Regions from separate parts of the Homo sapiens genome. Here region 2 is reported to be linked to region 1. The links are microRNA targets in miRTarBase. Many come from high-throughput screens and were not tested one by one. Region 1 holds a microRNA gene; the other region holds the end of a gene's coding sequence.
Evidence for each region. The annotated mature microRNA hsa-miR-4509 reads ACUAAAGGAUAUAGAAGGUUUU and lies in region 1 at 1,782-1,803, opposite strand. An mRNA with a match to its seed (bases 2 to 7 or 8) in the 3' UTR can be bound and repressed. Matches are read on the target gene's strand: a 7mer-m8 pairs with bases 2 to 8, a 7mer-A1 pairs with bases 2 to 7 and ends in A, and an 8mer does both.

Region 2: miRTarBase lists MARCHF6 as a target of hsa-miR-4509. Seed matches in the 3' UTR shown: 7mer-A1 at 2,582-2,588.

The regions. Positions count from the first base shown.
Region 1 is chr15:28,422,921-28,428,310 of GRCh38, reverse strand. It overlaps MIR4509-2 (microRNA 4509-2), which reads right to left and starts at 1,820; the gene lies at 1,727-1,820.
Region 2 is chr5:10,432,645-10,438,034 of GRCh38, reverse strand. MARCHF6 (membrane associated ring-CH-type finger 6) reads right to left here. Exons shown (of 26, transcript NM_005885.4): 26 at 1-4,441. The coding sequence ends at 4,351. Among named protein-coding and RNA genes, the nearest start is that of ROPN1L-AS1, 6.5 kb to the left of the region's middle.

The DNA.
Region 1 (5,390 bases):
TACCCAATGCCTGTACCCCCATTGTATGTAGGAAGTAACTAACTTGCTTTTAGTTTTACAGGCTCATAGGTGGAAGGGACTTGTCTCAGATGAGACCTTGGACTGTGGACTTTTCAGTTAATGTTGAAACGAGTTAAAACTTTGGGGGACTGTTGGGAAGGCATGATTGATTTTGAAATGTGAGAACATGAGATTCAGGAGGCGCCAGGGGAAGAATGATATGGTTTGGCTATGTCCCTACCCAAATCTCATCTTGAATTGTAGCTCCCATAATCCCCATATGTCATGAAAGGGACCCAGTGGGAGGTAACTGAATCATGGGGATGGGTTTCTCCCTGTGTTGTTCTTGTGAAACCGAATAAGTCTCACAAGATCTGATGGTTTTATAAAGGGGAGTTCCCCTGCACATGCTCTCTCTCTTGCCTGCCACCATGTAAGACATGTCTTTGCTCCTCCTTTGCCTTCTGCCATGATTGTGAGGCTTCCCCAGCCACGTGGAACTGAGTCCATTAAACCTTTTTTTCTTTATAAATTACCCAGTCTCAGGTATTTCTTCATAGCAGTATGAAAGTGGACTAACACAGTATCAAACCCTGGTTTGGGGTAATAATCACTACCTTCTAGGTAACCAGAATGGAAAAAAATAACAGAAAAAAAATCCTAAAAATCATCCTGCGTACAAGAAAAATGAAACTGTATGCTGAATTCTCAGGGGGAGAAAACGTATTTAAAAATATATGACTTTCAAACCACAAGAAACTATAGAACATTGCTTTAAACTATTTGTCTATGAACAGTATGTAGAAACACATGGAATTTAGGAAATAGGAGATGAAGGCTACAATAACAAAAGAGGCTCATATCACAAAATGGGAGATAGCTGAGATGAGGCTTCTATGAAAACTAAAGTGCAAGGGCAGATTTTCCATCCACAGGGAAATCCGTGGAGAAAGAAACTGACACACTGAAAAGTTCAAGCAGCAATTGAATCAGAGCTCTGGAGGGCAAAAGAAGAGATGAACTAATGACAGAGAAGAAGGCGGATGGGTATGCCAGAGACCACAGGTTCCACCTCGAGAATAGTTTGTGTACTAGGGAAAGACACAAGGGCAAGGAGATCTGAAACAATAATCAAAGCTATCACTGAAGTACGAATAATAAAAGCACCAACCAGTTTCTAGGCAGGGAGGGGGAAGAAACAAGGAAGAGTTCTCCATATTTAAATAACAACTAGCCAAACTCCTGAATTTTACAAATAAAGAAAAAAACTTCCTTAAAAATAAAAAGTCAGGCTTAGATAAGACTTTTTTTCTTCTCTGTTAACATTATTAGAAGACATAAAGATTTTAAGAGAATAAAAATATGATCAAGAGGATCATAAATATCAGGTTGTCTTTACCTGAGTACGAAGCAATGGCATCTGTATATCCAGCACTGATTTGTCCTTCCAATAAAAATTTACTCAAAGACATATGGGTACATATTAGAAAAATAATCAAAATTAATATTTCAAGGATTAGGAAGTTGTGAAGCCAAAATCCTGCAAGGGGACAATTGATTCAGTTAATGGAAAGATTTATTTTTCATATTTTATGATTATTTACCAAAATAATATTTTTAAAGTATAATTATAAAATAAAAATAAAATATTTAACAATACTATAATTATAATCATGTTCCAAGTTATAAAACAAGATAGTGAGAATTGTCAGTAAGATAGTAAGAATTCTAATACTATCTCAAAATAAAGGATACAGAAGGTTTCAGGGCAAGAGAAAGGGAAAACCTTCTATATCCTTTAGTTTGAGATAGTATTAAAGCTTTCTGTAGGCTCACTCAAAATGTCCGGATTCTGACCACATTTGAATATGAGCACTCCCAACCTGACGATTCCTAGTCTAAGCCACACATATTTCCTCTTATGGTTATTGCAAAAGCTCCCTAACTGGTCTCCCAGCTTCTGCCGTTGATTCCTTTCAGCTATTTTTTACACAAGTGCCAGAGAAATCTCAGAAATGCAATTCAGATGATATCACTTCTTTGCTTATATCTTTCAATGTTGTTCCCCTCTACGTGTTCATGTATTCTCCCCTTTGACTCTCGCTTCTAAGTGGGAACATTTGGTTTTCTGTTCCTGCATTAGTTGGCTAAGGATAATGGCTTCCAGCTCCATCCATGTTCCTACAAAGGGCGTGATCTCATCTTTTATGGTGGCATAATATGCCATGGTGTATATATACCACATTTTCTTTATCCAGTCTACCATTGATGGGCATTTATGTTGATTCCATGCCTTTGCTACTGTGAATAGCGCTGCAATAAACATATGCATGCATGTGTCTTTATGACAGAACAATTTATATTCCTTTGGGTGTATACCCAGTAATAGGATTGCCGGGTCGAATGGTAGTTCTTTTAGGTGTTTGAGGAATCACCACACTGTCTTCCACAATGGCTGAACTAATTTACACTCCCACCAACAGTGTAGAAATGTTGCCTTTTCTCCACAATATTGCCAACATGTTATTTTTTGGCTTTTTAATAATAACCATTCTGAATGGTGTGAGATAGTATCTCATTGTACTTCTGATGTGCATTTCTTTAATGACCAGTGATGCTGAGCTTTTTTTCTATGTTTGTTGGCTGCATGTATGTCTTATTTTGAAAAGGAGGGTGAAAGCTGGGAGGAGGGAGAGGATCAGGAAAAACAACTAGTGGGTAGCAGGTTTACCATGTGGGTAACAGAATAATCCGTACAACAAACCCCCATGACACAAGTTTACCTACATAACAAACCTGCACGTGTACCACTGAACTTAAAAGTTAAATTTAAAAAATAAAAAATAAAAAAATCTTTCAATGGTCCCATGTCAGTTTGAGGAACAGCCAAAGTCCTTAAAATGACTTACAAGGTGCTCGTTCCATCATCCGTCTTCTCATGTTTATTTCTCTGCCACCATCTACTAATACTCTTCCCCCTTCTCATTCTACTCCAGCTATAATGGCTTCCTCGATGCTGTTCTAAGAATAAGTCCACATGATTCCAACTCAGGGCTTTTGCCCAAGCTGTGGTCTCTCTTTGGAATGCTCTTCTTTCAGCAGAGCACGATTCCTCCTCATTTCCTTCAAGTCTGTCCCCAAATGCCTTCTACCTGGTGTGTAATTGTCATGTGTGGCAGTTTTAAACATAGTCCAAAAACAGGTTGATATTCTTCTCATCAAAAAATAGGTCTATGTCTCCCTTCCCTAAATCTGGACGTGCTTGTGACTGCTACAATCAATAGAGTATGACAAATAATTCTACCTGACCTTTAAAGTGAGATAAAAAGAGACCAGGCATTTTCCACCTGGTTCCCTTGGAGTGTTTGATCTGCGGAAAGCCAGCAGCCATATAAGAAGTTTACCCTGTGCAGGCCGGGCGCGGTGGCTCAGGCCTGTAATCCCAGCACTTTGGGAGGCCAAGGCGGGTGGATCACGAGGTCAGGAGATCGAGACCATCCTGGCTAACACGGTGAAACCCAGTCTCTACTAAAAATACAAAAAATTAGCCGGGCCTGGTGGTGGGCGCCCGTAGTCCCAGCTACTCGGGAGGCTGAGGCAGGAGAATGGCGTGAACCCGGGAGGCGGAGTTTGCAGTTAGCCGAGATCGGGTCACACCACTCCAGCCTGGGGGACAGTGAGACTCCGTCTCAAAAAAAAAAAAAAAAGTTTACTCTGTGCAGGCACTATAACTAAGAGTCCTTCCCATCTGAGCCTTGCCTTCCAGACAACTCCATCAATTTATAAGACAGAAAAAAAGCACCTTGCACCTTCCAGACTGACTTGTTTGCCAGCCGACTAGCACTGAGTCACCCTAGTTAATGATGTGAGAGAGGAAGAATCACTCAGATGAATCCTGCTGGAATTTCTCACCTATAGGATCCATGAGATATAATGAAGTGGTCGTTGTTTTACCTTATTAAATTTAGGGTAGTTTCTTTTTTCTTTTTTTAAATTTTTTTTTTTTTGAGACGGAGTCTCCCTCTGTCGCCCAGGCTGGACTGCAGTGGCGCGATCTCGGCTCACAGCAAGCTCCGCCTCCCGGGTTCACGCCATTCTCCTGCCTCAGCCTCCCGAGTAGCTGGGACTTAAGGCGCCCACCACCACCAGGCCAGGCTAACTTTTGTATTTTTAGTAGAGACAGAGTTTCACCGTATTAGGCAGGATGGTCTCGATCTCCTGAACTCATGATCCGCCCGTCTCAGCCTCCCAAACTGCTGGGATTACAGGCGTGAGCCACGGCGCCCAGGCCATTTGGGTTAGTTTCTTAAGCAGCAATAGTAACTGTAACACTGACTCACTTCTACTGCCACCAATCACTATCCACTTTTCCTGATTCACTTCTTCCTATGTACCGTCTTTTAAAAAACAAATAATTAGGCCGGGCTAAGTGGCTCACGCCTGTAATCCCAGCACTTTGGGAGGCTGAGGCGGGCGGATCACGAGGTCAGGAAATCGAGACCATCCTGGCTAACACGGTGAAACTCTGTCTCCACTAAAAATACAAAAAAGTAGCTGGGCGTGGTGGTGGGTGCCTGCAGTCCCAGCTACTCGGGAGGCTGAGGCAGGAGAATGGCGTGAACCCAGGAGGCGGAGCTTGCAGTGAGCCCAGATGGCGCCACTGCACTCCAGCCTGGGCGACAGAGCGAGACTCCGTCTCAAAAAAAAATAAAAATAAAAAATAAATAAAAAAAGATTTTTAATATATATATACGAGAATATGTGAAACAGTATGTTTTCAAGTTTCCATTGAATATTTTAAAAATAGATTATATAAAACCTCAACATATTTTTTAAAATAAAAACCACACAGGTCACATTACCTACTCAAAATTTAATTACATTAGAAATTAAGACAAAGTTAAAACAGGACAACCAGCACCCCTAGTATCACCCTCCTCAGAGTATTTAAAAATAGATTCCTTTAAATTATCTCTTGTTTTACAAGAATAAAATCTAATCAATTATTAGAAAGATAATCTCAAACTGAACTCAAAAGAAGAAGCAAAGCATCTTCAAAGTCAATAAGGGTGCTATAAATGCTTCTTGGACTCTGAAACTCTCTGACTTCCCATTCTACTCTCAGTTGTAGAAAACTCCCTGATTGTGAAGTTTTGGTGTGATTAGGTTAGGTTTACCCAGATACTCCCCCCGTCTTAAGGCTGACGGATTATTAGCCTTAGTGACATGTGCAAGACTCCTTTGCCGTGTGAGGTATCAACAGGGTAACATGAGGAAATGAAGGTCATAGGGGCTATCTTAGACTTCTTCCTGCTACAACCTCTATTCACTTATTTTGAAACCTCAGAGTTTGATGAGCTCCTACTATGTTCTAGGTCCTTGCAATAGGA
Region 2 (5,390 bases), not on the chromosome of region 1:
GATGTGTCCTCTGCAACTATGCATTTAAATGTATACATAAAAGGGAGTCGCCACAGTCACATTTAACTGGAGTTGTTTTTCCTTCCTATTATAACATCTGGATTATCTATGCTGGCTAATAATGCATATTTCTGCAATCTTAAAGCAATCTTGCAATAACACAAAAACAAACAAAAAAACTAGACTACAATTAACATTCACTTTATTCAGTTTTGTCCTCTCAACTTAGAAGGCAACAAATGACCACATTAAAAAGGGAGCATTTCAGAATATATATACATAAAATTGGTCTGGGTACCCTAAGGTGTTTGCGTTGATAGAAAATTGACACCCCAAACTAAGTGTTCTACTTAGCTTCTACAATAGTTATTCCTAGACCTTAGATTAGTCATTACATTTTTATTTAAGGTACTATGTTACTTTCATGACTACAAAATGAGGCACTCGTACAAAACAGGAATGAAAACATACATATACTGTCTTGTCTTTATGTCGTATTAATGCCAAAGATATTGTCAGGGATTATTTTAAAGAAGCCCTTACTCATGATGGCTATTTTTAAAAATGGCACAGGACAGTAACAGGCTGAAAAGAAAACACCTGGTTGAGGGGACAAATTAAGTAAATACAAGACAGCTTAACCAAGGAAGTCAGCGAATCTCCACAAATGAGGCTTTTAATAATACTTTACTGGTAAGACATTTTAGTTGGGTTTTTTTTTGATGGCTGAATAACATCCTAAAGAAGTATTTTAAATATAATCTTTTAATTTTACAATGTAGAAAACTTCTCACAGTAAGTAGAGAGCTTAGAGTACTCAACCCTGAAAATGAAAATAAGTAGCTAGCTTGGAAAGTTTTAAAAAGCGCCAGTGTTCTTATGGCACTACATTCTCCTGCACGTGTGCGTGTGTTCACGCACATTCGCAAACGCAATACAATGTAGAACTGTCCAGTGTTTGTTTTGTTTTAAAAAGTCATCAATTCAACCTAAATTCAAGAATTACACTTTAATAGTGGCATTTTGCCAATACAGAAATGACGTATCTTGGATCAAATCATTTTAAGGAAAGTTATTCTATATTACTTGAATAAGGGAAAGAAAATACACAAGACAAGAATCCACAATAATAGCAGTTACATTAAATGTTGAAATAAAAATTACTTTTTGTTTACATCTGGAATTGAGATGGCCCATCTTCATTGTTTCTCCAGAGTACTAAGAGGGGGAAAAAAGTCACCTAAAAACATGGGAAGTTTTTTAAGGCTAGCTATACACAAACGTCACATTGGCATTTTTCTTCAGTTTTCATCTCAACTATTAGTACTAAATAGTTTAAAAATCAAACATAATTTACTAATAATGAACAACTGCACACTTCATACTATGACCGTTTGATAACTGGTCATGTAAAACTATCACCAAATGCTGATTTGTCTTCTATATATAAATAGTAAAAATAAAACAAAAAGGTCTTCTTTCCTAGTTAACCTTCTTGAAGGTTGTTTTAACCCAATATAAAATTAAGCAAAATAATAGTATAATTTAAAAAAAAATTTATGTGAAGAAGGGCAGCAATACTAACATTTTCTGAACTATGGGTTTTCAATATTTAAAAGGCTCTTGGTTAAATACTAAAACCCGGATGCTACCCAAGCAAATATTATGCTGGAAAATGCTTTCCCTATGAAAATACTTATCTCATTGAAAACAACACGATAAAGTACAATTGAAAAACTAGGGGAGAATTCTTAAGTAAGACAATATAAATTACCTGCCAGTAAAATGGAGGGCAATTTTTTGGCCATTCATATTGTTTGTTTACAAAACATTGATAAGATTCATTTAAAATTCTGTAGGATTAAGAATTTTTAACCTTTTGAAGTATCTGCCTAGGATCTCTTGCTGTTAAAACAGATATGTTCCAATGACTTTATACCAAGATCCACAAATTCTTTGAAAAATTAAAAAACAAAACAAAACAAAACAAAAAACCCAAAATTAATATAATCAAGTTGGCCAGGCGTGGGGGCTCACACCTATAATCCCAGCACTTTGGGAGCCCAAGGAGGACGGATCACCTGCAGTCAGGAGTTCCGAGACCAGCCTGGCCAACATGGTGAAACCCTATCTCTACTAAAATAACTAAAATAAGCCAGGTGTGGTGGCACGCACCTGTAGTACCAGCTACTTGGGAGGCTGAGGCAGGAGAATCGCTTGAACCTGGGAGGCAGAGGGTGCAGTGAACCAGGATCGTGCCACTGCACTCCAGCCTGGGCAACAGAGTAAGACTCTGTCTCGGGGGCAAAAAAAAAAAAAAAAAAAAAAAAAAAAAAATATATATATATATATATATATATATATATATATATATATATATATATATATATATATAGTTATATAGTTATATAGTTATATGCTCAATTCAATAATAATGTTTTTCTCCCAAAGAGAGCAATTTAGAAATACACTATGACAGGCAGCATTATATTTTAAAATCCTAATTTTTTATAGTAGGACTAAATTTCTGAGTAAAGGTAGGGCTAACAAAGACCTTATTTCAAATGAGAGAAAAGGCTGCTCTAAAGTGCCAAAGAGTATAACACTGAATCCTATGTCAAGCATTATTTCTGATACTGATTTTTTTTTTTTTTTCCAATTTTGCCTAGGTTGGCCTCGAACGCATAGCCTCGCCTCCTTGTGTGCCAGGACAACCGGCCGGAGCCACCGCAGCTCCCGATACCGATGTTTTTAAAAATATGTTTTAAAGTAATTGCTTACCACTTAGGGAAAAAATTGTTGAAGTATAAAACAGCCAGAACACATTGCTCTTTATTTTGGTAGCTTATGTTTGGCTGACTTGCATATGTTAAAAAATTCTCAGATTTTAGTCTATGGATTTTAATACTATATGAAAATTCTTTTATAGTTTCTGAAGACCTATGTTATACGCTTTCTATGAGAACTTCTAAATTATCGTTCAAAAACAAACACTACCCTTACGATATACCTTTAGCATTAAACATTTAGATCATGTACCCAACCATTCTATTTTTCTAAACTTCTAACCTGAAGCTTTGGTTATGAGGGAAAACAAAGTTTGTAAGGGTTCAGTTCTCTGAGATTTTTCAGAATGTTTCCAACGAAATACATTCCTATGTTAAAAGGCCAGCTCAGCCAAGCTTCCTTCTGGACAAATAATGAATTGGTTTTATTTGAAGTTTTATTCTGTAAACAAAAAGCTTTGGAAACTTTGGGATTTCCTGATGAAAAGCTAGGAGAAATGCACACCTAGTCCTCAGCCAACGAGGCACTAACCAGCGAGACCAGATGTTCTAACCAGTCTTCTCTAATGCTGTCAATCTAAGACCACAACCACATCTATACTTCACAAGCATCTCAGAAGTCCTAAATCCAGTAAGATGCAGTACAGTTGGTGATGTCACTCTGAAAGATTTATGACCTTGCAGGACTTTCGGCCACTGCTACAAAAAATAAACAGATAGTTGTGTGTGGAAAAGAGAGGATGTGGGTGTGGGGTGGGGGCGGGCGGGGGGGCTGACTCATGAAAATCTTCATTTGGACTTTTTTTCTCTAAGTATAGACATGCCCCACTGAAACCCAACTCCCAATGCTGATCACACTAGGAATATTAAATTATCAAAATTAAAAATAATTTCCTCACCTAGCACAAGATACTATACAATATTACAAACACAGACACATGAAAAAAATCAGGCAGTAGGAAATGTACAACAGCTTTGGTGTTATACAAAATAACTTCCACAAACAACTAACAGTGAAGCATAAAGTTCATGTTTTCTTACCACAGACACTCCACTGCTGATTTCTACTTGTTTCCTTTAACGTTCTTGGTAAGGTCTGAATAGCCAAGAAAGAAAGAATGTACAGTTCCCTTAGTGAGAGCTGCTAGGACATCATGAACTGCGTTCCACAAGGCGTCACTGAAAAGTCTTGCCTGCGCACTACTGCTCTGTGGCACGTTTCCTGTCGAGATCACAGCAGGTCCAAAATAAAGTGACAACTAGATTTAATAAATTAATATACATTTTGTTTAAAGATGTACAATGCACATTCTGTTTAATCCAAGGTTTTAGGGTATCAAGGAACTTGTATTTACACATATACAAATCTCAGACAGCAGTAATGTCAGAAGATCCAGGGAGAACAGCAGAATCTTACACCGCTGCTCTCTGAATGCTGAGAACACAAGTCAAATACATTTAACTTAAAAACAACGCTGAGAGATCACTGGGAAAAATCTCCAAAGAGAGAAGTCCACAAAAAAGGACATGTAAAGGGGAAGGTCAAGTTGTTGAGACAACTACTTTATTCTTGGGATGACTGTGGAGGTGGTGGAGATGAGCCTTGTTTGCCAGATTTCCGTTCGTAGTTCACGAGTCGTTGACCCACAAGGTACCTAGGTTGCAAAAACAAGGTGGTTACTCTCTTCTATGAATGTACAGAGTAAAACATTCATATGTCTTTTTAAATCTAACTCCTACTTAAAACTCGTCAATGGTTGGGCAAGTCAAAGGGAGTCCCGAGTGAACACCTGTAAAGGCTGACACATCTACCTAGGTATGGGTTTGTAGGAAGCTGCAGAAGCAGCACAGGCTGGAAGGCCTCCAATGCTGTGCAATGGAGGACATGCTTCAGTCAGTGGTTTAGGGGGTCTCAGAAACTCAGACCTGTGGAGGCCAGGAGGGATACAGTAAACTTATGCAGTGGATTTATCTGTTAAGGTTCAGATTTTATAAAACAACTTAGTGGGCAGATCTAAGGAGACAGACTAAAAACATGACCATCAGAAAGCTAGGAAGGGGCTGGGCGTGGTGGCTCACGCCTGTAATCCCAGCACGTAGGGAGGCCGAGGCGAGTGGATCACCTGAGGTCAGGAGTTTCAGACCAGCCTGGCCAACATGGTGAAACCCCATCTCTACTAAAAATACAAAATTAGCTGGGTGTGTGTGGTCCCAGCTACTAGAGAGGCTGAGGCAGAAGAACTGCTGAAACCTGGGAGGTAGAGGTTGCAGTGAACTGAAATTGTGCCACTGCACTCCAGTCTGGGTGACAGAGTGTGACTCCGTCTCAAAAAAAAAAAAAAAAAAAAAGTAGGAAGGGATGAAAGTAAAACTGGAAGTTCTAGTTACAGAGAAGAAAGGAGAAATCAAAGGAGAAATTTCAGTGAAGTCAAAGGGAAGACAGCATTGCAGTGAGTGAGTATGAGTGACAGGAGGTGGGAGAATATGGTTCAACAACAGAATGGCAAGTGTTCCTAACTTATGTATGTGATGAAAGGAGAAGGCAATGGCAAAGGCCACAGGGCTGCAGAAACAAGGCAGATGTTACTGTAGTTGGAGTGACAG